4 separate regions of the Homo sapiens genome follow, and all the other regions are linked to region 3. The links come from fine-mapping of genetic effects on gene expression. A gene starts in region 3. Each other region holds a variant in brackets. All regions are shown on one strand. Distances are from middle to middle. Region 1 overlaps GALNT6 (polypeptide N-acetylgalactosaminyltransferase 6). Region 2 overlaps GALNT6 (polypeptide N-acetylgalactosaminyltransferase 6). Region 3 holds the start of GALNT6 (polypeptide N-acetylgalactosaminyltransferase 6). Region 4 overlaps GALNT6 (polypeptide N-acetylgalactosaminyltransferase 6).

Evidence for each region.
Region 1: its variant is fine-mapped to the expression of GALNT6 in whole blood (TOPMed, PIP above 0.99). The same link has a PIP of 0.9 or more in hypothalamus, prefrontal cortex and spinal cord.
Region 2: its variant is fine-mapped to the expression of GALNT6 in testis (GTEx, PIP above 0.99).
Region 4: its variant is fine-mapped to the expression of GALNT6 in anterior cingulate cortex (GTEx, PIP 0.95).

The regions. Positions count from the first base shown.
Region 1 is chr12:51,357,539-51,363,622 of GRCh38, forward strand. It overlaps GALNT6 (polypeptide N-acetylgalactosaminyltransferase 6), which reads right to left. Exons shown (of 12, transcript NM_007210.4): 7 at 3,183-3,300; 8 at 1,594-1,794; 9 at 592-723. Among named protein-coding and RNA genes, the nearest start is that of CELA1, 14 kb to the left of the region's middle. RefSeq lists an enhancer at 266-315. The variant A/G (reference allele first, on the strand shown) is at 3,307.
Region 2 is chr12:51,366,286-51,372,369 of GRCh38, forward strand. All of the region lies in intron 4 of GALNT6 (polypeptide N-acetylgalactosaminyltransferase 6), which reads right to left. Among named protein-coding and RNA genes, the nearest start is that of GALNT6, 22 kb to the right of the region's middle. RefSeq lists enhancers at 3,041-3,190, 5,029-5,595. The variant T/C (reference allele first, on the strand shown) is at 2,473.
Region 3 is chr12:51,388,062-51,394,145 of GRCh38, forward strand. GALNT6 (polypeptide N-acetylgalactosaminyltransferase 6) reads right to left here and starts at 3,345. Exons shown (of 12, transcript NM_007210.4): 1 at 3,226-3,345; 2 at 2,789-2,876. It also overlaps a transcript of SLC4A8 not described here. RefSeq lists enhancers at 1-445, 1,471-1,560, 2,522-3,107, 3,108-3,692, 5,736-5,825 and silencers at 44-338, 3,378-3,917.
Region 4 is chr12:51,350,961-51,357,044 of GRCh38, forward strand. It overlaps GALNT6 (polypeptide N-acetylgalactosaminyltransferase 6), which reads right to left. Exons shown (of 12, transcript NM_007210.4): 11 at 4,846-4,998; 12 at 292-3,532. The coding sequence ends at 3,419. Among named protein-coding and RNA genes, the nearest start is that of CELA1, 7.3 kb to the left of the region's middle. The variant G/A (reference allele first, on the strand shown) is at 3,582.

The sequences.
Region 1 (6,084 bases), 31 kb before region 3:
CAGTCAACTGCAACAAATTTGCATGGCTGGATTTCCCCCGTCATTTCTCTCCTCTGTGCGTTAACCCACATGCCTGGAGCTAACAGCAAAGTGAGCTGCAGAGCCCCAGAGGCTGGAAAGGGCAGGACTGAACCCCTCTGTGGGGCAGGCAGGGAACCTCCCAGGATGCCAGGTCCCTGGAAGAAGCCCTCAGCACGTGGGAGTTTCCTTATAAGCAGTGGTTCTCAAATGTGAGCCCTGGACCATCAGCATCACCTGGAGACTCGTGAGAAATGCAAGTTTTCAGACCTCCCCTGAGTCCTTCTGAATCAGGAACTCTGGGGATGGGCCCTAGCGTTTTACCGTGCCTTCCTGGTGATTCTGATGCATGCTAATGTTTCAGGACCACTGCTTGTGGGTTGTTTTGCCCTTTATAAGGTTTTTTGCTATCTCTAGAAGCCCCAACGTGGCCTCTCAGTCCTCCTCCTGGATAAAGGAGGGTGCAGGGCAAAACTCAATTCTTGTTTGTCATCCATCTGTGGGGTCAGTGGTCTTGAACTTCTCCAAGGGGTGCTGTGGTGATGGGCAGGCAGGTTGGTTCTCAAGACTTACGGCACCATAGAAGGTGGGCGTCAGGTCAGGAACAAACATCTCTGGGTAGACATTGTGCAGGTACCAGGAAAAGTTGTGACAGTGCAGTTGTTCCCTCAGCTGCAGTCGTTCCGAAATGTCACCGAAGGATTTCTGTCAATCAAGCCAGCCCCCTAAGGATCAGTTCCACCAGTTTTTTTTTTTTTTTTTAAGAGGGAGTCTCACTCTGTTGCCCAGGCTGGAGTGCAGTGGTGCAATCTCGGCTCACTGCAACCTTCCCCTCCTGGGTTCAAGCGATTCACCTGCCTCAGCCTCCTGAGTAGCTGGGACTACAGTCGCGCACCACCACGCCCAATTAATTTTTGTATTTTTAGTAGAGATGAGGTTTCACCATGTTGGCCAGGCTGGTCTCAAACCCCTCACCTTAGGTGATCTGCCCGCCTCGGCCTCCCTAAGTGCTGGGATTACAGGCGTGAGCCACCACACCCAGCCAGTTCCACCAGTCTTTGACCTTCCTGTCTGGGCTGAAGTAGTGCAGATAGCATGGAGCGCCTGGGGCTACTGTCTCTCATGTTCATTCCCACTCAGGACCTGTTAAAGATACTGGCCCAGCCCTCACATCCAATCCCAAAAACCCCGCCTTAGCTTTGGAGTCCCCTGCTTATCGGTCCATCTCCTGTGACTCCCCAGACAATTATGTCCCACTCCCCAGTGCCGAGGCTCTCAGAGCCATTCCTCCAAAGCCTCCAAAGCCTCCGTAAGAGGCTTTTCCTCCAAATCTCCTTTCCCTCCCTTCCCCTCCAAAGGGATGCAGAGACTCTATGCGTAGGGACAACATTCTCTAGCTTTTGAAACCTATGTGCCTTGTGGCCTTCTCCTGGGCTCTAGCTCACAGGTCCCTGAGGGTGAAGGGAGGCGCCAGATGGTAGAGATGAGGTGGGTCCCAGCCATTAGGCCCATGAACAGGGTCTGGGGGCCGTACTTCTCTTCATCTAAACCTCTCCGAGAACCATTTCCTCTCACCTCTTGGGCCATCTTTGCTGCCTGCAGATTTCTCCTATAGAAAATCTTCTTGTAGCTGTCCATCCAGACCTCTGCCAGGCGCACTTGATTGCGAGCAATGACACTAGTGCCCTTGGGGAAGGTGTGGGGGCTCTTGGTCCGGAACACATGGCCTACGACAGAGCAGGGGATGATCTCCAGCTGGCCCCCACACTGCCACACCTGATGTAAGAGGAGACAGGATGAGGCCTTCAGTGGGCTAGGTGAGACAGTCTCCCCATAAGCAGCTCTATTCTATTCCCAGAGCACCAGACCCCAGGTCCAAGGACTTGGGCAAATGCTGCTCTCTCTCCCTGGGAAAAAGGATACCGACCAGGCTTCTTCCTAGGCCATGACTACACGATCCCAGGCTTTCTGATGTTGGTTCACTCTGACTTAAGCACAGGGAGACTGCAGGGTCCTGTGTTTACCAGGGCCCACTTTAGGGAAAAGCCTGCTGGTTAATTTTTGTTACCTGTGCCTGTATACCTACTCTGAGCTCTGATCACTTGGCTTTTTGACCTGGAAATGTGAGTTTATCAGCTCCCTCAGGTGATAAAAACCAGAGCATCAGTCTGTTAATTAATAGCAAGGATAGTTGGCTGCTAGGTGGCTAGTGGTAGTCACTTGGGCCCTTAGCACACTGGCTGCCTAGGAAGGTGAACAGAGGTCAGAGGCTCATGGAGGAGCCTAGGATTGGGCCGCTGGGAGTTGGGGTGACTGGCAGGTGACCCTTTTCTATGCTGGTGGGCTGGCTGAAGACATCCCTCCCACTGGTTTCTTCTTTTGGGTTTTAGGTGGGAAAGTATGTTGTTATTCATTTTAGTGTGGCAGCAACAGAAATACATAATCGTTATAGTAACAGCAGGCATCAATTACGTGCTTAATATGCATCAGGCACCGTGAGAGGTGACTTCATAAATGAGCTCATCTACTTACTAATTACTTTTCCATGGCATGGAGATTTGTGTAGGTTTCATGGAGAGGCAATCCTTGCTTCCTGACCTAATCCTGATTTGCCTAATTCCTGGAATCTCTCAGAGTTCTGGGGTCCACCAGAGTTGGGGCCACCATCTTCTCTGACTGTTATGAAGGGCTTATTGTACATAGGTAGGGAAACTTCAAAGGTTACCAGGGCATGTGTCCTTTGAACTGGGAAGGGGAGCCTGATTTTTCCAGAAAAAGGATGATGACTGGTTACTCATCTGTTTTTTTTTTCTAGCCCTAGTTGTGAACATACTAACCTGTTTCTATCTTCACCCTAACCCTTTCCCACAGACATCGCAAAAGAGTCCCCAGTCACCAGATGTCCAGTCCTCATTACCCCTATTATTCCTTGCCTCTGAGAAGTTGTGCCCAGTAGTTTGTTTTGAGCTGTCCAGGCTGACTGCCCAAGCCCTACTGCCATGGACAGGGGGAGCAGAAAAGAGGAAGAGACACACTGGGAAATAGCCACCCTTTCTAGTTCAGTTCCAGATGGGATGTCCCTGATGCCACCTCTGCCTGAGAGATGTTTCTCAAGCTGTCGCCTGGGATGTTGTGGTTCCCCCCAAAGCCCTCTTCACTCTCACCCGGAAGGACATTTCCACGTTCTCCCCTCCCCAGATCTCCATCTGATTATCATAGGTACCGATGTGCTCAAAGTAGGACTTGGAGATGGAGAAGAGGCCACCAGCAAACGTCGGGGATCTGGAG[A/G]GACAGAGGGAGAAGTGTGTGCATCTTCTGGGAGAGGAGGAGCGGAGCCTGGCGGGGAAAGCTGTTTGTGGACTCCCCTCCTAACCCACCTCCCCCTCCTTTCCTCTTTCTCAGGACGTGCAGCCCCTCATCCACTAACTCACTCATCATTTAGCTTTTACTATGTCCTCTTCCCCTTCTAGGACCAGGTCAAGGAAATATGTAATTATCCTCTAAAAGGCACTCATTCATTCGTTCAACCTAGGATGCACGTAACACTGGCCACCAGGGCCCGTGCTACATGATGGACACACAGAACGGAGAAAGACAGATCCTATTCCCCCAGAGCTCAATCTAGTCACAGAGGTTAAAGCTACCATTAGTTACTTTTTGGCAGCAAAGTGCCTGGAGCCTAGGAGATACTCAACTTTCAGAAGCTGTGTGAAATTGTTTTTGAAAATAGGCAGGATTCAAACCATGAATAAATGAATGAATGAATATTGTCAGCTGGGCTGACTCCATTCTGTTTCAGGGCCCCTGCCCCTCAGGGACTATTAAGCCACAGTTTTAGTAGGCGCCTAGCCCTGGTGATTTACACTGCATGAGAAACTGTAGATTTGGGGAGAAGTTGCCAGTTGCTTTTAACAGAGAAAGCTGATAAAAGGTGCTCCTGGAAACAGTGGAAGGTCAGGTGAGATCAAGCTCAATTTGGGCTACAGGGAACATTTAGAAGGTTATAAAAAGATTCTGGCTTTCAGACACAGGCAGGGAGGTGTGGACTCAAGATAAGATAAATTGACAAAAACATCTAATTCCTAGAATTTAGATACCAGGTTGCTTCGAAGAGGGACTGGGCTAAGCGTTAGGGTATCGAAGCGGACCCGGGGAAGTATAAGCAAGATGGAATGCTGGGGTGGGGGCCGGTGAGACATGGCAGGAGCACAATCATCAGCTGCTGGTTTCTGTTTGGGCCAGCCTGGCATGGCTAGGGCTTTGCTGCCCTCAGTGGGCAGCTTCATGTGGTACAACCAAGCAGAAAGATACAGAACCCCTGTAACCCCAGAACCTATCTAGGTGCCTTACACACAGCTGGGGCCCAATCACTGTTCATTCGCATGATCCATCAAGGTGCCTACCCAGGAATGTGACCCTGGTGTTACCCTGTGGTTGCTCTTGTCTACCTGAAGTTGGCTCCTGCAGCCACTTTCTGGAAGGAATTTCAGTCGTGCTCAGGCTGGCTTCCTATCACTTTGGAAGAGGCTCTGGCCTCTCCCAGGGGTCTTAAACCGGCACAAGTAGCACCCTGAGAGGCTCAGAGAGTGCTGGAACTGCAGAGGAGCACTTGGAAGCCAACCTGCTTCCTCCCCCACAGGCCCTGAGTCTTGTCTTTGAGAAGTCTCCCAGACCGAGAAGTCACTGATGGATTAGCCATGAGGACAAACCCTGCATGGGAAGCTTCACTGTAAATTCACAACCACAGGCAACCTCTAGTAAACACCCTTTATGTCCTGGCCTACCCCTAGAATCCCCCAGGTCCTCTGCCTCTCCTCTTAGGCTCTGGTTGGCTTGAGATGGGAGGCCGGGAGGGGACTGTCAGCAGTCCTCCTGGGGTGGGGGCGCTACATGAAGAGCCTCGGCAAGCCATGCATGCTACCGGGGCATGTGGGCCAAGGAGCACATTCATTCCTCAAACACTGGAGCTTTGTCTTCCAGTTGTATGGCCCTTGGACATTGAAGCCTGCGACGTCAGTGATGGGTGGGGGCCAGGTGCCCTCTTTCTGACTGTGCTGCTGTGTGCCTGGTCACTGGCATGGGGGTGGGGGTGGGGATCTGTTGCAGTGCACACCAAACAAAAGGCAGCTATGAAACAAACATTGGGTCAGTGGAAAGTTCCAATTTCTTTTCTCTCTTTTGCCTTTTCCTTTCCCTCTCTCCTTCTAATGGAGACAGAGCAGCTGGCTGTTCAGGATCTGTGGGATTTCTCCCTGTGGCATTCACCTGAGTTCCTTTCTACTGGGACTCTGAGCAGGTTTTTTTTTTTTTCTTTTTCTTTTTTAAGAGATGGGGTCTTGCTATGCTGCCCAGGCTGTTGTTAAACTCCTGAGCTCAAGCAATCCACCTAATCCACCTCAGCCTCTCATCTAGCTGGGATTACAGGTGTGGGCCACTGTGCCTGGCATGGACAGCATTTTTTAGGATTCTGGGCACGTGGAGAGGAAGAAGCACCAATCCTTTCCTCCTTTCAAACCTTCCCTCTTATCTCTGGCTACTGTATCTCCAACCTCTGCATCCCTCCGTCCTGGATGTATATTCAGTTGAGCCTTAAGTATACTGGCCAGTCTAAGATAACAATGACACAAATAATCCCAAACCACAGGCTACACTAAAAGTCACTCCTCAACTTGGTTTGTCTGAGACAACTGTTAAAATAAACTTACAGTCTCCAATAACACCAACAGGCTGCCTGGAGAGGGGAGGATGGGGTGAGTATAAGAGGGAAAGGTGAGCCCAGTGGGCATTAAACTGTGGGTTGACTTCCAATTGTCTACCCTGCAGCTCAGGGGCTGGCACACAAGAGCCTGTGGGCAAAATCTGGCTGCCTGGTTTTAGAAGCCTCTGGGGCAAAAAATTATTTTTACATTTTTTAATGTTTGTAAAAAAAATAAAAAATAAATAAGATGAAGAATATGCAGCAAACTATATGTGGCTGGCAAAGCCCAAAATATTTATCATCTGGCCCTTCACCAAAGAAGTTCAGGGCAACTGCTACAAACTTCACGCTGCAGAAAATGTGTCTGT
Region 2 (6,084 bases), 22 kb before region 3:
TTCCAGAGCTGCAATTCCACAGCTCCATTGCACGGTTGTTTTCCAGTGTCTAGGATTCCCTGTCTCCCAGGCTCTTCACGGTAACGTCGATGGGTGGGCATACACAAATGGTGACTCCTTGCTTGCTGGATCAGCAGCAGGACATCTGACTCTAATCCCCTTTGTAACCTCCTCTGCAGATAGAATTCTTTAAGGTGAAAACATGCCCAGCAGCTTTTTAATTATATTAAGAAAATACTTGCACCAAGCACCTACCACGGACCAGGCACAGTGGCGAGCCCAGCCGGCTTGACCATTTGTCCTAAGGAACAAACCACCCAGAAGCAAGGCTGACCAGGAAACAGGCAATTCCAGGGCAGGTGATCCATGATCTAACAGAGGTAGTGCTGGGGTGTGGGTCCCAAAGAAGGGCCAAATCTCCTGGATTTGAGGAGCGGGGAAAGCTTTTTGAAGGGAAGATGTCTCTACTGAGACCTCCAGCTCCTTTCAAAGAAGAGTTTTAGTTCATGGCCCTGTAATTTAGTCTGAAATCCTCAGAGCATTAACAATAGCTCTATTCTGGCTGGGCACGGTGGCTCACTCCTGTAATCCCAGCACTTTGGGAGGCCAAGGCAGATGGATCACTTGAGCCAAGGAATTTGAGACCAGCCTGGCCAACATGGTGAGACCCTGCCACTATTAAAAATACAAAAATTAGGCCAGACGCGCTGGCTCATGGCTGTAATCCCAGTACTTTGGGAGGCGGAGGCAGGTGGATCACCTGAGGTTGGGAGTTCGAGACCAGCCTGACCAACATGGAGAAACCCTGTCTCTACTGAAAATACAAAATTAGCTGGGCACGCATGCTTGTAATCCCAGCTACTCGGGAGGCTGAGGCAGGTGAATCGTTTGAACTTGGGAGGCAGAGGTTGCAGTGAGCCGAGATTGCACCATTGCACTCCAGCCTGGGCAACAAGAGCGAAACTCCGTCTCAAAAAAACCAAAAACAAACAAACAAAAATTAGCCAGGTGTGGTGGCGCACACCTGTAAACCCAGCTACTCGGGAGGCTGAGGCAGGAGAACTGCTTGAACCCAGGAGGTGGAGGTTGCAGTGAGCTGAGATCATGCCACTGCACTCCAACCTGAGTGACATAGCAAGACTTGTCTCAAAACAAAAAACAAACGAAGAATAGCTCTATTCTGAAGCAGTCCATCTTGAAACATACCGAATTCCAAACCTTACTATGTTTTACTAACTGCCATTTTGGTTTATCTCTGCCACGGTTCTGTTCTGTGCAGAATGGAGTTGCCTGCAGTTTCAGATGTGGGGGACAGATGTGACAATTGTGTGTCCTTTTCCTTTTGGACTGTGGGATCAGCCCAGAGCTTGGGCCTTGCTCTGAATGCAGCATTCTACAAACGGCAGGTCCTGAAATTAAGCAGCTTAGGGGGTTGCATGCAATTGATCTCCCACAAATGCACGCACACAATAACCCAGCACTGAGCTGGAGTGTGTGCCGGTGTGGGTGAGGTAGGTGTCTTCATGGTGACTTCTTTATTTAATCTTCTCTATGATAGTTAACAACTCTATGAAACAGGGAGTATTGTCCCCAGTGTTTATAGATGGGGAAAGTAAGACTCAAAGTGACTAGCCCAGGGTGGCAGAAGCACAAAGGGCAGCAGCAGGATCCTAGCCAGTCTGCATGTGAGGACTCCCCACCTTCTCCCTCCAGGGGAAGTGAGGCCATGGAATTTTTTTTTTTTTTAATTTTTTAATTCTGGAGCAGATTAAGATCAGAAGGCCAAGGACTTAATGCACCTGAGTTTCAAGGTGGTCTCTTGACCACCAGTGAGGCCACGGACTTTTTTTTTTAAATTTTTTTATTCTGGAGCAGATTAAGATGAGAAGGCCAAGGACTTAATGCACCCGAGTTTCAAGGTGGTCTCTGCTTCCTCTCGCAGTCACCCAAGGCCTTGCCATTTCCCTGTGTGTGAGATCCCGGGAGGGAAAGGGAGAGAAAGGGGTTTGTTGAAGCTGTTCTTTAGTCACTGTCCTGGAGAGTGGCGCCTAGGAGAAGGAAAGTCTCTATAATTTGGAATTTCAGCTTTTTCCTTCTTTTTTTTTCCATGTTTTTTTTTTTTTTCTTCTTTTTTTTGGAGACAGAGTCTTACTCTGTCGCCCAGGCTGGAGTGCAGTGGTGCAATCTCGACTCACCACAACCTCCACCTCCTGGGTTCAAGCAATTATCCTGCTTCAGCCTCCCAAGTAGCTGAGATTATTGGCACCTGCCACCACGCCCCGCTAATTTTTTGTATTTTTTGTGAAGATGGGGCTTCACCATGTTGGCCAGGCTGGTCTCGAATTCCTGACCTCAAGTGATCTGCCCGCCTCGGCCTCCCAAAGAGTTGGAATTACAGGCGTGAGCCACTACGCCCCGCCCACTTTTTCCTTCTTCAATCCTACTGGACAGACAGGTGAGGTGATTATGACA[T/C]GGCGCTCATTTATGAATGGATTCTTCAGGCAGTCATCTGAGGAGGGGGCTGTATCTTACTTAACTCCAGGAATGAGGCCTCTTATCTCTGGGGGCCAGGACCTCAGGAATCAAAATCAGCCTCATGCAGCAGCCTCAGCCCAGCACTCACTCCACAAATGTCTGTCAATGTGCTGCCAGGTGCCAGATGCTGTTCTGGGAAGGGAGGGGCCTGGTCTGGGTCCTGCCCTTTGAGACTCATAGTGCACCTGCAGCCCCGGGTGCTGGCCCTGACAGGAAGGAGGGAGGAAGCCCAGGCTCCTCAGCATGGCTGCTGTGTTTCCCCGAGAGCTTGCCCAGCTCTGCGCACAGGAAGTTCACGGTAGTGGAGATAACCCACGGACAAAACATCATAGGAAGTGGGTTTTGTGGTGAGAGACAGTGAAGCACTGAGCTGTGAACCTCAGGGGGGGCCCCGAGCACTACAAAGCCCTTCTCCCACGCCTTCCTTCCAGTCTGGTGAGGCCAGACCCAGGGATTCTCAGCCTGAGAGGCTTCCAGCCTCTGGCCTCAAGCCCTTCTGGGGAGACAACTCCCCTAAGCAATGCCCCTCGTGATACTCCACCTGTTCCACCCCCAGACCTACTGGACAGACCCAGAACTGAGGAGACTGGAGCTGAGCATAGCTGTACCGGTGAGCCCAGCCACACACTCATGTCCCCGCCGTGACAGCCTTCCAACTTAGGTTCAACACCCCACCACCCCAACCAGCTTCACTCCTCACAACTCAAGTCCACAAGACCCCTGGGATGCCAACACAGACACCGCACTCAGTTCCATGATCTGAAGTATCATGCAGATGGCTCCCAGGGATTCCTTCCTGACCTTGCCATCTTCACTTGGATGTGGAACAAAATGGAAAATTCAACATATGCCCAAAACAGGCTCTGAATTTCCCCTGCAAATCTGCCCCCCAGTCTCCCTCACGTCAGTACACGGTGCCAGCATCCCTCCAGCTGCTCTAACCTGGAAGTCATGCTAGAATCCCCCCTGCTGTCCCCTTCCACAATCAGCACATCTGCAGGTACTGCCAGCTCTCTCTCTCATCCCCACAGTCACTGCTTTTCTGCCTTCTATACCACTCTCCTCAATCTATTCTTGACACGGCAGCTACTGTGAGAAGTAAAATTCTCTCTAAAAATCATAAATCAGATCATGTCACTACAGCGGCTTCAAATTGTATTTAAAAACAAATCCATGGTGTTTCCTTATGGAAAGGTATGATGGTTCCTTAAAAAAAACTAAAGACAGAATTACCATATGATCCAGCAATTCCACTTTTGGGCATATACCCTGAAGAGCTGAAAGCAGAGACTTGGATATTTGCACACCAATGTTCACAGCAGCATTAGTCACGATAGCCAAAGGCAGAAACAGCCTCAGTGTCCATCAGCGAATGAACGGACAAACAAAATGTGGTGTATACATACAATAGAATAGTATTCAGCCTTAAAAAGTAAATTCTGGGCCGGGTTTGGTGGCTCACGCCTGTAATCTCAGCACTTTGGGAGGCCAAGGTGGGTGGATCACCTGAGGTCAGGAGTTCGAGACCAGCCTGACCAACACGGAGAAACCCTGTCTCTACTAAAAATTCAGAATTAGCCAGCACGTGCCTGTAATCCCAACTACTCGGGAGGCCGAGGCAGGAGAATCACTTGAACCCAGGAGGTGGAGGTTGCGGTGAGCCAAGATTGCGCCAATGGGCAACAAGAACGAACTCCATCTCAAAAAAAATAAAGTAAATTCTGACAAATGTTACAACATGGATGAATCTTGAAGGCATTATGCTAAGTGAAATAAGCCAGTCACAAAAGGACAAATACTGTATGATTCCACTTATGATAATCAAATTCATAGAGACAGAAAGTAGAAGGGTGGTTGCCAGGGGTTGTGGGGAGGACAGCGTGGAGAATTCATGTTTAATAGGTACAGAATTTCAGTTTGGGATGACAAAAAATAAGTTATTGGCTGGTTGTGGTGACTCACGCATGTAATCCTAGCACTTTGGGAGGCTGGGAGTTCCAGACCAGCCTGGTCAACATGGTGAGACCCCATCTTATTAAAAAAGGGAAAAAAAAAAGTTCCGGAGATGGTTGCACAATAATGTGAATGCATTTAAAATCAATAAACTGTGGACTGAAACCGTGAAGATGATACGTTTTATGTCGTGCCTTTTACTACATACACACATGAAAAATCCAAACACTGTCGGTGGCTTACGGAGGTCTCACAATTTGGTCCCGCTAGCCTTTTAAAAAATTATTATTATTATTATTATTATTATTATTATTATTATTATTATTTGAGATGGAGTTTTGCTCTTGTCGCCCAGGCTGGAGTGCAATGGTGTGATCTCAGCTCACTGCAACCTCCGCCTCCGGGGTTCAAGCAATTCTTCTGCCTCAGCCTCCTGAGTAGCTGGGATTACAGGTGCCCACCACCATGCCTGGCTAATTTTTGTATTTTTAGTAGAGACGGGGTTTCTCCATGTTGGCCAGGCTGGTCCCAAACTCCTGACCTCAAGGGTTCTCTTGCCTCGGCCTCTCAAAGTGCTGGAATTAACAGGCATGAGCCATGGGCCCGGCTCCTTACACCCACTCCACCAGCACTCTTTCTGCTCCCTGGCTTACTTTGTTTAAGCCACACTGTCTTCTTTCTGCCTCATTAACAAGTCAAGCCTCAGGCCTCTGTGTTGGCTGCTCCCTTTGCAGGGAGTACTAAGAGTAGTCTTTCCTGGCTACTCCGGTGAAAAGAGCTCCCTAATTACTCACTCACTAACCCATTGCCCTGCATTCTTCTTTTTTTTCCCTCTAATTTAGTTAAGCTGGTGGAGTGTGCCAGACAGGGAGGGAACCCTGGCTGCTGACCTAGCCACTCAGGAATGAGGTCTGTGCCCTGGTTCTGACTCAGAGGTGGGGAAGAAAAAGCTCCCCAGCTCAGCACGCGGTCTCCTCCCCCATGGTATCAAATGCCCTTAGACTCACTCTCATAGGGCTACTACTGGGTGCCTGGAGTGGAGGTCAGAGAGCAGGGACATTGTATTTCGGCAGAGACACAGTCCTGTTTGTGTGTGTGTGTAATGAGAGCTGGTTAATCTGATCAAACAGTCAAACGTGTGGGAAATTTTATCCCACTGTGGACGGCAGAGATTTCTGACCATGGATCTGAGGGTTTTTTCCTCCTTTCCTCACTGAACTGAATGTTGCTTAAAGTATCTCTAGCGTCTGAAAGCCCTCTGGGTAGGGTTGTTTATCATAGGGTCCACAAATTCCCTGGAATTAAATGCAAAAATGTGGGTTTTGCATATTATTGTGGGCAGTGGTGCACTATTCTAGGGATTTTAACAGATTCTGAAAGGATGCCAGGACCCAGAAAAATAAGAATGACTAGCTTAGGTTTTTCAGGCAGGTGATTGTTTTGTTTTTGTTTTTGACACAGGGTGTCGCTCTGTCACCCATGCTGAATACAGTGGCATGATCAGGGCTCACTGCAACCTTGACCTCCTGAGTTCAGGTGACCCTCCCACCTCAGCCTCTCGAGTAGCTGGGACTACAGGCACATACCACCATGCCC
Region 3 (6,084 bases):
TCCGTGAAACAAGCCAGCCCCTGTCCCACTCTCAGACAGGTCGTTTTTAATCCTGTCTCAATTTCAGGTTCACCCCACACCCGCTCCCAAGTCCTGCTGATTCATTCCCTGCCTCCGGGTTCCTCACTGTCCTTTCTGCTTTCAAAACCTTCATTTGAAATTGGGCCTTTATCAACTAGCATCTGGAGGATCAGCAGGAGCTGCCTGCCAGCCTCCTTTGCCTCGGGCCCCTCTCTCTCTTTCACAATCAGGACAGCCGTATTCATATTCCTTGAGCACTGTTTGACTGTGGCAGAAACACAGAGGGGCTGGCCGGGTTGCTTCCTGTTTGCTGCTCACCCTCAAGCCCAACCAGATGCTTGGCACTCACTGGCTATCTTTTCTTCCTCAAAGCCTTTCCCTTATATTCTTGCTAAGCAAGCCATATTTCTTTTCTTTCAAATTCTTACCAGAGACTCCCCTCTTTCAAGAAGGCTTCCTAGACTAAGGTGCATCTTGCTGCCTCAGTTTCTAGGTGTTATTTGTTCCCAAGTTTCTCTACTACCCGTGCTTTCCTTACGTGGGATTTCCCCACTAACTATCATGGAGAAGGGAGAACCAACAGGCCTAGACGGTAGACCACCTAGATCCTATTTCCTTCTCCTTCCCAATCCTTGAGTCTTGGTCCCCAAACTTCTGTCTCCAGAATGTTCTTCCTGACCAATCTACCTGGCCTTCCAATCCCTGTCGCATCTCTCTGCCTTGAGATGTATGGCAATGCTATTTTGCTAGTCTGTTCTTCATTCTCTATTACGTGCAGAGTTGAGGACTGGGTTGCTTTCTTCCTTCAAATCTCTACCTAGGCCTTAGGACCAAGTTGTTCAGGGTACGAGAGAATAAGCTGACCCCACAGGGCTGTCAGGTGCCACAAAAGTCTTCTAACAGTCCTTCTCCTCCCTGGAGTGAGCTCACCCTTGTTCACCACACAGGCCTTTTACACAGCACAATTACAACATTGAGCTCGACACAGAGACAGGCACTGCCCTGCACTTAACCTCCTGCTTATTCAAATCCTCACTCTCGTTCCTATCAAATGAGAATGAACATTTGGGCTTTCCCAGAAAGGGGCAGAGGACTGTGTAAAGAGCTGAGTTCACCCAAGCTACGGCATGGACACACCCAACCTGGTCTTCAGCATCCCTTCCAGGGCTGAGATGTCGGAACACATCCGTGGGAGCCAGAAAATGTTAAGAAGAATACCATCACCATTTTAAATATTACTGCTTACCATATCAAATCAAGTTACAGTTATCTTCTCTGTTTTACACAGAAGGAAACTGAAGCACAGGGAGGTCAAGTAACTTGACCAAGGTCACACAGCTAGAAATGTGGCAGAGGCAGAATTTGCATTCAGGCCTATGTATCTCCAAAGCCCACTCTCTTAACTATGACATCACATTGTCTTGCATTTGACTGGTGCTTGGAGCTTTGCCAAAACACTTCATATACACCTTCTCATTTGCTCCCCACCCAGGGAGTGTTTATGTGTTTTGGCTAAGATTATATATCGAAGTTAGTGACAGGGCTGAGTCAGCTGCCTGCCTTCATGATACTCACTGCCTCCCTGCACTGAGAGGCCCTCAGCCCTAGGGTTAGCTGCCCCTCCTGGTCCTGAGGTCTGTTCGAGGCAATGGTTGCATGGACTAAGTTCATGCTCATATTTCCTGTCCCCACTTCTTCCAGCTGAACTTGGGCAAATATGTTTCTGACCTCACAGGGCACCTGACACACATCAGGGCCTCCCCTTCTCTGCCCTGAGTTCTTCCATGCTGCTACAGGTAGGAGTCAGCTGTTCCACCCACTGTAGGACTGTGGGCAGCATTACTGAGGTGAGGTCATCTTGAGCAGCCCAGTCTCCTGCACACTTCCCTCTTTCTTTTGAGGGTCTTGTCCTGTTCTCTGCCCTGGTGCCCCTGGAAGCAACTTTCTCTGATTACCTCTGGGTTCCTAAAGTGCATGGCACCATTAAGGAACTGGAGCTAGGGAAATGCCTGCAATGCTACTGGCTCCTGCTAGGCAATTGGAATCAAAGCATATTTCTTTCTTTCTTTCTTTCTTTTTTTTTTTTTTTTTTTTTTTGAGACAGAGTTTTGCTCTTATTGCCCAGGCTGGAATGCAATGGTGCGATCTCAGCTCACTGCAACCTCTGCTTCCCAGGTTCAAACAATTCTCCTGCCTCAGCCTCCCAAGTAGCTGGAATTACAGGCGCCTGCCACCATGCCCGGCTAACTTTTTGTATTTTTTGTGGAGATGGGGTTTTGCCATGTTGGCCAGGCTGGTCTCGAACTCCTGATCTCAGGTGATGCACCAGCCTCAGCCTCCCAAAGTGCTGGGATTACAGGCATGAGCCACCACATGTGGCCGGAACCAAAGCATATTTCAAACCCCTCACCTGACCTGGTTTTCATCATCACATGAATTTCCCTGTCTCATCCTTCTTAACCTTTCCTTTGATGGGAAGGGAGACAGCTCATCTGTCTGGAGCGGAGAATAGGGCCTGTGTGGTGCACACACATCTCTGGTAGAAGGCGCAAAAGTCCTCGAGGCTCTTTGGTGTGTCCAGAACTATGAACCTCACCCAGTGCCTGTAAATTGTGTGTGTGGGCCTGGGGGCGAGCTCAGAGCACAGAGTTAACATCCTTTCTGAGAGTGCTGCAATGGGTTGTCGGCTGCTAGAAGGGGTCTGCTGTAAGCTTTGTGGGCAAACTGACCACCCTCCACCCCCATACACAGAAGAGCCCCATCCTACCCTCTGCAGACGTCTGGGTCTGCGATGATTGGCCCTGGATGCAAGTAAAAGCTGTTTCTCCTTTTTGTCAGCCTGGGAATCTGAACAACTGAGGAAATAGGGAAGTCGGTGACAGTCACAGTCATGAACACCCAGCAGATTCCATTTCCCCACAGCAGGAGGCAGATCCCTTCCCACCCCCAAAAGCCCCCAGGCTCTGGAGGGAATTCAACCAAGCAGGGCTCAGACCGACCTCCACCAGCGAGGCTTCTCCTTGCTGTCCCCTTCTGCTCAGGCGCAACGTGGCAGGGCAGGAGGAAACCTCTCTGCAAGAGTTGCCGTACCAGAGCACATGGGGTGGCCCGATCTGGGGAGACGGGGCACAGAAGGAATGCAGGGCATGGGTGGGTGAGGGGAAGAGGGTGTGGAGCCCTGGCTCTGGCTTGTCCCCCTCTCACCCCTCCAAGTTCCAGAGGTCTGGGCTCCTCATTCATCTCGTAAGCGCCAAGGTGGAGGGGGGTCCTACCGAGGGAGGAGCTACAGGCCACCGCGACCAGCAGAGAGCGAAGGCAGGAGGGACCAGCCTGGCCCAGCCCCTTCATTTTACTGTCGGGGGTAGTGAGGAGGAAGAGGAAGAGGCGAAGGCTGGCGGAGGAGGAGGTGAGAGCGAGGACTCGGCAGAAGCGAGATCCGCCGAAGGGAAGTCCGAGCAGTCGGGGAGCTCAGGGGGGCCCTCCCGGGGAGAGGGTCGCGGGCTCCTTCTGCCGCTTACCTGTCGCGCCGAGGCAAAGCCGCAGCCGCGCCGCGGGGTGGCTCCCGGGTTTCCCCACCGGACGGCCGGGAGGGTGGGACCGGGGCGGGACCTCCCCCAGCTGCACTAACGCGCCCGCCCCGCCCCTCCCTGGCCAGGTGCAGCGGGTCCCGCCGTGTCCTCAGCCTGCTGCGGGCCCGGGAACTCCCGGCGGACCGGCAGAGGGGCGCCCCGGCTTCTCTGCGTCTCAGCCCGCCCCGGGGGTGCGGTCTTTGCGGCCAGGCTTTCAGCGCGGAAAAAGATTGGAGGGTCCTAGTCACCCCAAAGAGGACAGGCATTAGCAGAGCCGCGGGCGGCGGGTGCATGGAACCGGAATGTGCTGCGCGCCAGCCTGGAGCGCTCGGAGCCCGGAGGCCTGCCCCGGAGGGGGAAACGCGGCGGGGCGGCCATGGGCCCCGGGGTCCTGCCCCAGGTTTGCTTCTCATTTGTGCTCCATCCAACAAGAGCTCGTATTCCGTGTGCCATGAACTGTGTCAAGGGCTCCAAGTGCCAGGTATCAGGTGAATCCCAGCCCCAGCAAACTTTAAACCTACTATGATTATTCCGAATGTACCGGGGAGGCAGCTGCTCACACAGCAGAGGGTGTTTCTCAAAGTGGGATCCCCCACCAGCAGCGCCAGTCAGAATCACCTGAGAACTTATTAGAAATTTTGGCCGGGCGCGGTGGTTCATGCCTGTAATCCCAGTACTTTGGGAGGCCGAGGCGGGCGGATCACAAGGTTAGGAATTCGAGACCAGCCTGGCCAACATGGTGAAACCCCGTCTCTACTAAAAATACAAGAAATTAGCTGGGCGTAGTGGCGGGCGTCTGTAATCCCAGCTACTCGGGAGGCTGAGGCCGGAGAATCGCTTGAACTCGGGAGGGGGAGGTTGCAGTGAGCCGAGATCACGCCACTGCACTCCAGCCTGGCGACAGAGCGAGATTCCGTATCAAAAAAAAAAAAAAAGAAAAAAAGAAAAGAAAAGAAAAGAAATGGGCCCCACCGCAGACCTAAATATTCCGAAACTCGGGTTGGGCCCGGCGACTTGTGTTTTAAAAGCCCTCCGGGTGATTTTGTGCATGCTCGACCTTGAGAACCCTGAACAATTAGTGGCAGGGCTGGAATGAGAATCCTGGTAAACCCGCCTCCTAAGCCGGTGTTCGGAATTACCCCGCCAGGGCCCGTGCTGCTCAGTGGTCCTCTCCGGCGCTGCCTCGTGTGCTGCAATCTTTTGGGGCCTTAGCAACAGAGAAGGAGCGCGCATGACTCCAAATAGCCAATAATTTGAAAACTTTCTATGGTAGAAACTTCTACCACTAGTTCAGTTTCTCTTTTGTTTTGATATTTAAATAAATTTGTCTTTCTTTCTTTCTGTTTTCTTCCTCTTTCTGCTGCCCCGCCTCCCTCCTTTTTTCTTTTTTCTTTCTTTCTTACTCTCTCTGTCTCTCCTTTCTCTCTCTCTCTTTCCTTCTTTCTCTTTCTTTCCTTCTTTTTCTCTTTCTTTCTCTCTTTCTTTTCTTTTCTTGCTCTACTGCCCAGGCTGGAGTGCAGTGGAGCTATCACGGCTCACTGCAGCCTTGACCTCCGGGTCTCAAGCTGTTCTCCTGCTTCAGCCTCCACAGATGCATGCCACCATGCCCAGCTAACTTTTTTTTGTAGAGAGGGAGTTTCGCCATGTTGCCCAGGTTGGTTTCAAACTCCTGGGCTCAAGCCATCCTGTTGCCTCGGCCTCGCAAAGTGATGGGATTAGAGGCATGAGCCACCGAGTCCAGCCATGAATTTGTATTTCTAAGACCCTAAGACCTGGGAGCAGGAGCATGAGTGAGTAGATCCTAGCAAGAAGTTCTGACACGCACTGGGAAAGGCAGGGAAGCCAGCCGGGTGTTAACAGGTGAATGAAGAAAGTAATCTTTTTTTCTAACCTGAGACTCCAAGGTAGGTTTGATCTATTCAGAAGGTGAGATGTTCTTTGATGGAGTCAGGAGAGAAGGCCAGCAGAGTGTGGAGAAGAAGAGTTGCCCAGCTACACATGATCAGAGTGACGTGAAGGATGGACATTCTCCCAGGAGTAGAAAGGGGTTCATCTGCTCACTCTTGGCATGATGCCCGACTCCCCTAACTCTAAGCAGCCTTCCACCAACTCCCTTCCTTTCACATTCCAGGCCGTGGGCTTTAAGCTCCTAGAGAGACTTTCTACAGAGCTTCCTTGAGCATCCCTTAGCCCATCTGTAGACCCTCTGGACTCTGATTCCACCTCACTGCCCCAGCTGCTTCTATTCTTGTCATGTGCCTTACTTGACAGCTGTCTTTCTCAGAATGAGGGCACTTCCTGTGGAAGATTGTGGGATGCTGCCCCTCATGTCTCTCTTCTTGGGGCTGAACACTCCCTGTACAGGTCGGACCTACCGTCTTTGCTCTGTCCTTCCTCCACCTCTGCCCTTTGACCCTCAGGGGTTGTGTGATCCTGACGTGAGTCTTGCACCTTAGTCAGGACCCAACCTAACCTGAGGTGAATGGCCCCTATT
Region 4 (6,084 bases), 37 kb before region 3:
TGGGCTACATCATATGATTAGGCTGGGGAGCTGTTGGGTGATACCATAGACAGTATGAGGGATACTGGGATCCACGTTTGGATATTTAATGCAACCAAGAATAAGGCTAGGGTTAGGCTCCACGACTCCCTGTGGCTTACCGGACCTACCAAAGCCTCTCTCAACTGGGCCCCAACCCACTCTTGTACGGGGCTGAGTTACCCAGTAGGCACAGCAGGTGCAGTGCCCAGGGCCCATAGAAATGTTTTAGCTTCTTTTAAAACCAGAAGAAATAAAGTAAATCCAATCAGCCTGGATTACATTCATCTTTATACCAACATAGTCATAACATTAATTTTTTTTTGAATGGAGCAAGAGCTCCGTGAAGGCTAAAGTGCCTAGGGCCCCTGAAATTCATGATGTAACTCTGATCTTCCAGCTTCTACACCAGTCACTCCCTCACCCCAATGTCCTCTGGGTTTCTCAGACCCACTGGGGCCACATGTCCTCTGTGGCTTTGCTCCTGCCAGGCTGCTGCCTGTGTAACAACTCTGCTTATTGAGCCCTTCCCATCTGAGGACTCATCTTCCGAGGTCTTAGGTCAAACATTGCCATCTTTGTGAGGCCTTATCTGATTCCCTAAGTGGAAGGAATTGCTCCTTCTAACTCATCCAGCACCTCTTGGAGCATCTCCAGGCTTGCTATGATTTGCTTACATTTAGCGTGTGAGTTCCACGGGGACAGGACCTCGTTTGACGTCTCACGTCTCCACGTGCTTGACACAATACATAAGCTAGATTTAGGGCCAGAGAATGTTTGGGGACATGAGACAGTGGCTGTAACAGAACTTTTCAGATGTGTGTGGTTCTTCATAGCCCAAATCAACTGATTCAGCTAAGGGACAACACAGGTAAGAGAACACAACGCGAGTTTCCTTGACCAATGCCAGAAAACCTTTATTTCCACTGAGACCTCTCATCCAATTCTCTTCTTTCCGGGAACTTTTTCCCTTCCCTACTCCAGGTCGTACCCTGGCCACTCCTTTCCTTTTGGCTGGCCAATGTCTCCTCTGTAGGCTCCAGAAGGCTCTCAGGGATGTAGGCGGCCTCCCGCAGGGTTGAGTTGCAATGGGAACAAAGACAGCTGTGGTCCCATAGCACCCTCATCTGGTGACATCCTGCTACTGACAGTCAAAAGAAGCCTTCCCAGATGAAATTTTAGTCCTCTGCGCAGCCATGCTCTTCTTCCAGCAAAAGAGCCATGTGCAGTCGGGTCTGCTCCCCATGGGGGCTTTGATGTGGGCCCAGCAGTGGATCAGCCTTCCAGACACGCTCAACTCTGCACACTCTTCCTGCCGCCTCAGGCTTTCCAGGACCCTCCCGAGCCTTATCAGAGTCCTTACCCTCAGGGCTACTGATACCTTGCTGGGTGACCTTGGACAGATTCACTTACCTGGACTCAGTTTCATAATATGAAAATGATAGGGTTGGGCTACGTGATTTTCACGTTGTGCTTCCAGATTGTTAGAAGTTAGGGGCTGGAAGGCATTACCTGTCCCTCTCTCAATTTCACTCATGCTACTTTGTTTTTTTAATCTACCTTTTATATGGGGCTTAGAAAAAAGGGTTCTGGGACAAACCTGAGAATCACTGGCTCCAGGAGCTTTCTTTTAACACTAACATCCCAGGATTCCTAAGTGTGCTCTCTCCACAATGGCTACCTGGCCCTGTTTTTCCTTTCTTTTTTTTGGAGATGGAGTTTTGCTCTTGTTGCCTAGGCTGGAGTTCAGTGGCGCGATCTTGGCTCACTGCAACTTCCGCCTCCCAGATTTAAGCAATTCTCCTGCCTCAGCCTCTTGAGTAGCTGGGATTACAGGTGTGCGCCACCATGCCTGGCTAATTTTTATATTTTTAGTAGAGATGGGGTTTTACCATGTTGGCCAGGCTGGTCTCGAATTCCTGACCTCAGGTTATCCACCCGGCTCGGCCTCCCAGAGTGTTGAGATTACAGGCATGAGCCACCGTGCCCGGCCCTGGCTGTTTTCCTATGCTCTGTGGAGGCCAGCCAGCTAGAAATGATTAGAATGGAGGAAGAGGGAATGAGAAGGCTGGTGGCGAGTGGTCTAGCGTTCTTGTGGTGCAGCGGAAGGAGCCCTGGCTCAGCATTGAAGAACGAGCCTCAGTCTTGGCTCCAGCCATCTGCTAGCTATGGGACTACAGACAAGCCCCTTTACCTGTGTCTCAGTTTTCGTATCTGTAAAATAGGCACAGTGGTTTCTGTCCTGTCTTTCTCACAGGATTACTGTACAGATAAAGTAAGATAAAGGACACCTGTCAAGGAGATATCTGTAAACAGTTCTACAGACTTCAGGTAATAATAGCAAGGGAGGATCTCTTAGACCTCTGATCTGTCTGTTAGAATATACTTTTTTTTTTTTTTTTTTTCCTGAGATGGAGTTTCGCTCTTGTTGCTCAGGCTGGGGTGCAATGGTGCTGTCTTGGCTCACTGCAACCTCTGCCTCCTGGGTTCGAGTGATTCTCCTGCCTCAGCCTCCCAAGTAGCTGGGACTGCAGGTGCGTGCCATCATGCCCAGCTAATTTTTGTACTTTTAGTAGAGATGGAGTTTCACCATGTAGTCCAGGCTGGTTTCAAACTTCTGACCTCAGGTGATCCACCTGCCTTGGCCTCCCAAAGTGCTAGGATTACAGGTGTGAGCCACTGTGCCCAGCCAGAATATATCATTTCACTGGACTCTGCAGGTGCTTTGGATGATCAAGGAATAGGACATGGCTGTAGAAGTACTTTTCTTCTTCTTTTTTGTTTTTTTTTGAGACAGAGTCTTACCTGTTGCCCAGGCTGGAGTGCAGTGACACAATCAAGGCTCACTGTAGCTTCAACCTCCGGGGAACAAGCAATCCTCCCACCTCAGCCTTCTGAGTAGCTGCGACTACAGGCATAAGCCACCATACCCAGCTTTTTTTTTTTGCCGGGGGGAGGGTGGGCGTAGAGATGGGATCCTCACTATGTTGCTCAGGCCGGTCTTGAACTCCTGGGCTCAAGCCATTCTCCCACATTGTCTTCCCAAAGTGCTAGGATTTCAGGCATGAGCCACTGTGCCCAGCCTGAAGTACTTTTCTTGAACTCAGCATTGCTGCCCTGAACCCTCCCCCAGCTGCCTTCCCTACTTTGGGAGCCTCTATTTCTAGAACAGGAAAACGCTAGGCTAAATATATGTCCTAATGGTCTCTTCCATCGGTGTGAAGGAAAGAAAATGGGCCCAATGTTGTTGCAAGGATTAGGAAGGTCCTGCCTTGCCACCCAGTGGGTTTAGAAATCCATCTTTACGGCCTCCAGAGAAGCTGGTGATCAGGTTCCCAGACATCAGCAATCCTGTTTCCTGAGGAGCTTGTGGGGGCTCTCTCTGGGGATGATCTGGGTCCTAGACAAAGAGCCACAACTGATGGGGGTCACTGGGATTGCAGGGGGCCATGGCTGGCTTTTTGTCCTGGGATGTCAGGCAGGTACCAGATCCTGAGTTCCTGATGAGCTGATCCTAAAAGATGACAAAGCAAAAGGTCAGTCTGGGCCACAGACCTCTTAAC[G/A]GTGCTACCAGGGACAATGCGATGGGGTGCAATTGACAAAAGCCAAGGGAACCCCACAAGGCACAAAGAGGACACTTCCCCATTCCTTTCCTGCCCTCTCATGAGACACATTCCTGAGTTCCCACCTCTATCTGGTGCCAAATCCCCATCCCTAGCTTCAGACTGAGTGGATGAAATGGTGAAAGACAAGACCATGGGCTGAGAGAAAAATGCTTTCAGGGCCTCCCGCACCCCCAGATGGCCAGGCTCAAAGACCCAGGGCCACTGCTCCACCTCCAATTTTCTGCCTTGGATTATGTTTAGACTGCTCCCTTCCCTGCAGCCTCCAGGTTAGGTTCCTCTTTCCTAAGCTGGGGTGGAGTAGGGAGGCTCACTTGGGGTGCTGGCTTGAGCTCAGCATGGTGGCGGTTACATGGCATATCCTGGAGCAGTGTGGTGTAATGGAAAGAGCCCGTGCTTTCAAGTCAGACCCATCTGGGGCTAAATCCCAGGCCTGCCATTTACTAGTGATGGGTCTTGGGCCAGTCACAGACATGCTGGGCTTCCTCCGGCTCCAGCTCATCTGTAGAAACAGTGACTATTCCTGCTTGGAAAGAGCCTCTGAAAGATTAACTGGACCCAGGCATGTGAGTGCCTAGCTTTGAGCCTAGGACACAGAGGACAAGCAGGAACTATGAATGACTCTTCACCTTCTTCTAATTGGGTTCAGCCTAAAAATGCTTCAGCCATGGCAGAGCTAGCCACGAACCATAACCTGTCACCCCATTTTTACATCAGTCATCACCAAATACCCTTTAAGCCTGAAGAACCCTGCCTGTGGCCACACACACACTCACCTACCTTCTACATTGCTCTACTCCACCCCATGGCGTCTCAGGAAGAAAATGAAGAAAATATAGAGGGGCCGATGTGGCCTCAAGTTCTCTTTTTATTTTTTATTTTTCCCAAGATGGAGTCTTGCTCTGTCACCCAGGCTGGACTGCAATGGCACGACCTCAGCTCACTGCAACCTCCGCCTCCTGGGTTCCGGCAATTCTCCTGCCTCAGCTTCCTGAGTAGCTGGGATTATAGGCGCCGACCACTATGCCCAGCTAATTTTTGTATTATTAGTAGAGATGGGGTTTCACCATGTTGGCCAGGTGGTCTCGAACTCCTGACCTCGTGATCTGCCCTCCTCGGCCTCTCAAAGTGCTGGGATTACAGGCGTGAGCCACCACACCTGGCCTCAAGTTCTTGATTCTGAGCTTTCTGGACACTGACTCACCTGGGCCAATTCCCATTCCTCGTCCTTGGGGACCTGGCTATTCTTGCCAGTGAAGTGACAGCTCCCAAGGCCCAGAGCACCCTTGCTGACATGTAGACACAGCTGCTTTGCGATGTTGTGGCGAAGGTCCCTCTGAGTTGTGTACTCAAAGTACTGGAAATCAAGACAAGAGAAGCAGGTGGAGAGTTCACCCCCAGCCTTCCAAAGCCACCTGCCCTGAGCTGTCTACCATGCATGGTCTCCTGGGGAGGAGAGTGAATGTGAGGCCATGCCAAGACTTTACTCATTTATGTGCTGCCTTCAGGATTGTTACCATATCAGGGTTATGCTGGAATTTTATATACATATATATATATGTGTGTGTGTATATATATATGTGTGTATATATATATGTATATGTATATAAAATTCTTTTTTATGAGATGGGGTCTTGCTATGTTGCCCAAGCTGGTCTCAAACTCCTGAGCTCAAGTGATCCTCCCACCTTGGCCTCCCAAAGTGCTGGGATTACAGGTGTGAGCCACTGCGCCCAACCAGTATATTTTCTCTTTTTTTTTTTTTTTTTTTTTTTTGAGGCAGGGTCTTGCTCTGTTGCTTAAGCTAGAGTGTGGTGGCATGATCATAGCTCACTGCAACCTTGAATTCGTTTGTTCAAGCGATCCTCCATGTCAGCTTCCTGAGTAGCTGAGACTGCAGGCGTGTAGCACCACACTCAGCTAATTTTTTAAAAATTTTTTATAGAGATGGGGTGTCTTGCTATGTTGCCCAGACAGGTCTCAAACTCCTAGGCTCATGTGATCCACCTGCCTCACCCTCCCAAAGTGCTGGGATTACAGGTGTGGGCTACCGTGCCTAATCATATTTCCTTTAAATTAGATTAAAATTCAATTTAACTTAGCCTCATTTTAAGTAACATCCGTGAAATCATGTGATATGCTTGTTCTATTTTTGCTAATACATTACTATTAAAATAAAAAATGTTCTCCAGTGCACCACTGGAAATCATCTTGCAGGCCAGTGGTACAGGAAACTGCTGTAGAATGACTGTCTTCACCTACATATGCCAGCGGGCTTGTTCAGTGACCCACACCACTCCTTTCCCCACTCTGGCTCTGTTTTCAGTGCCTCTCACTTACTAGTGCTGGGCACCTAGTTTTGGGGTCACTGGAAGGTGGTAGGATCAGAGTGGTAGCTTCTGGGCAGAGGATGCATTGAAGATAGAAGTTGAGTGCAGGTGAT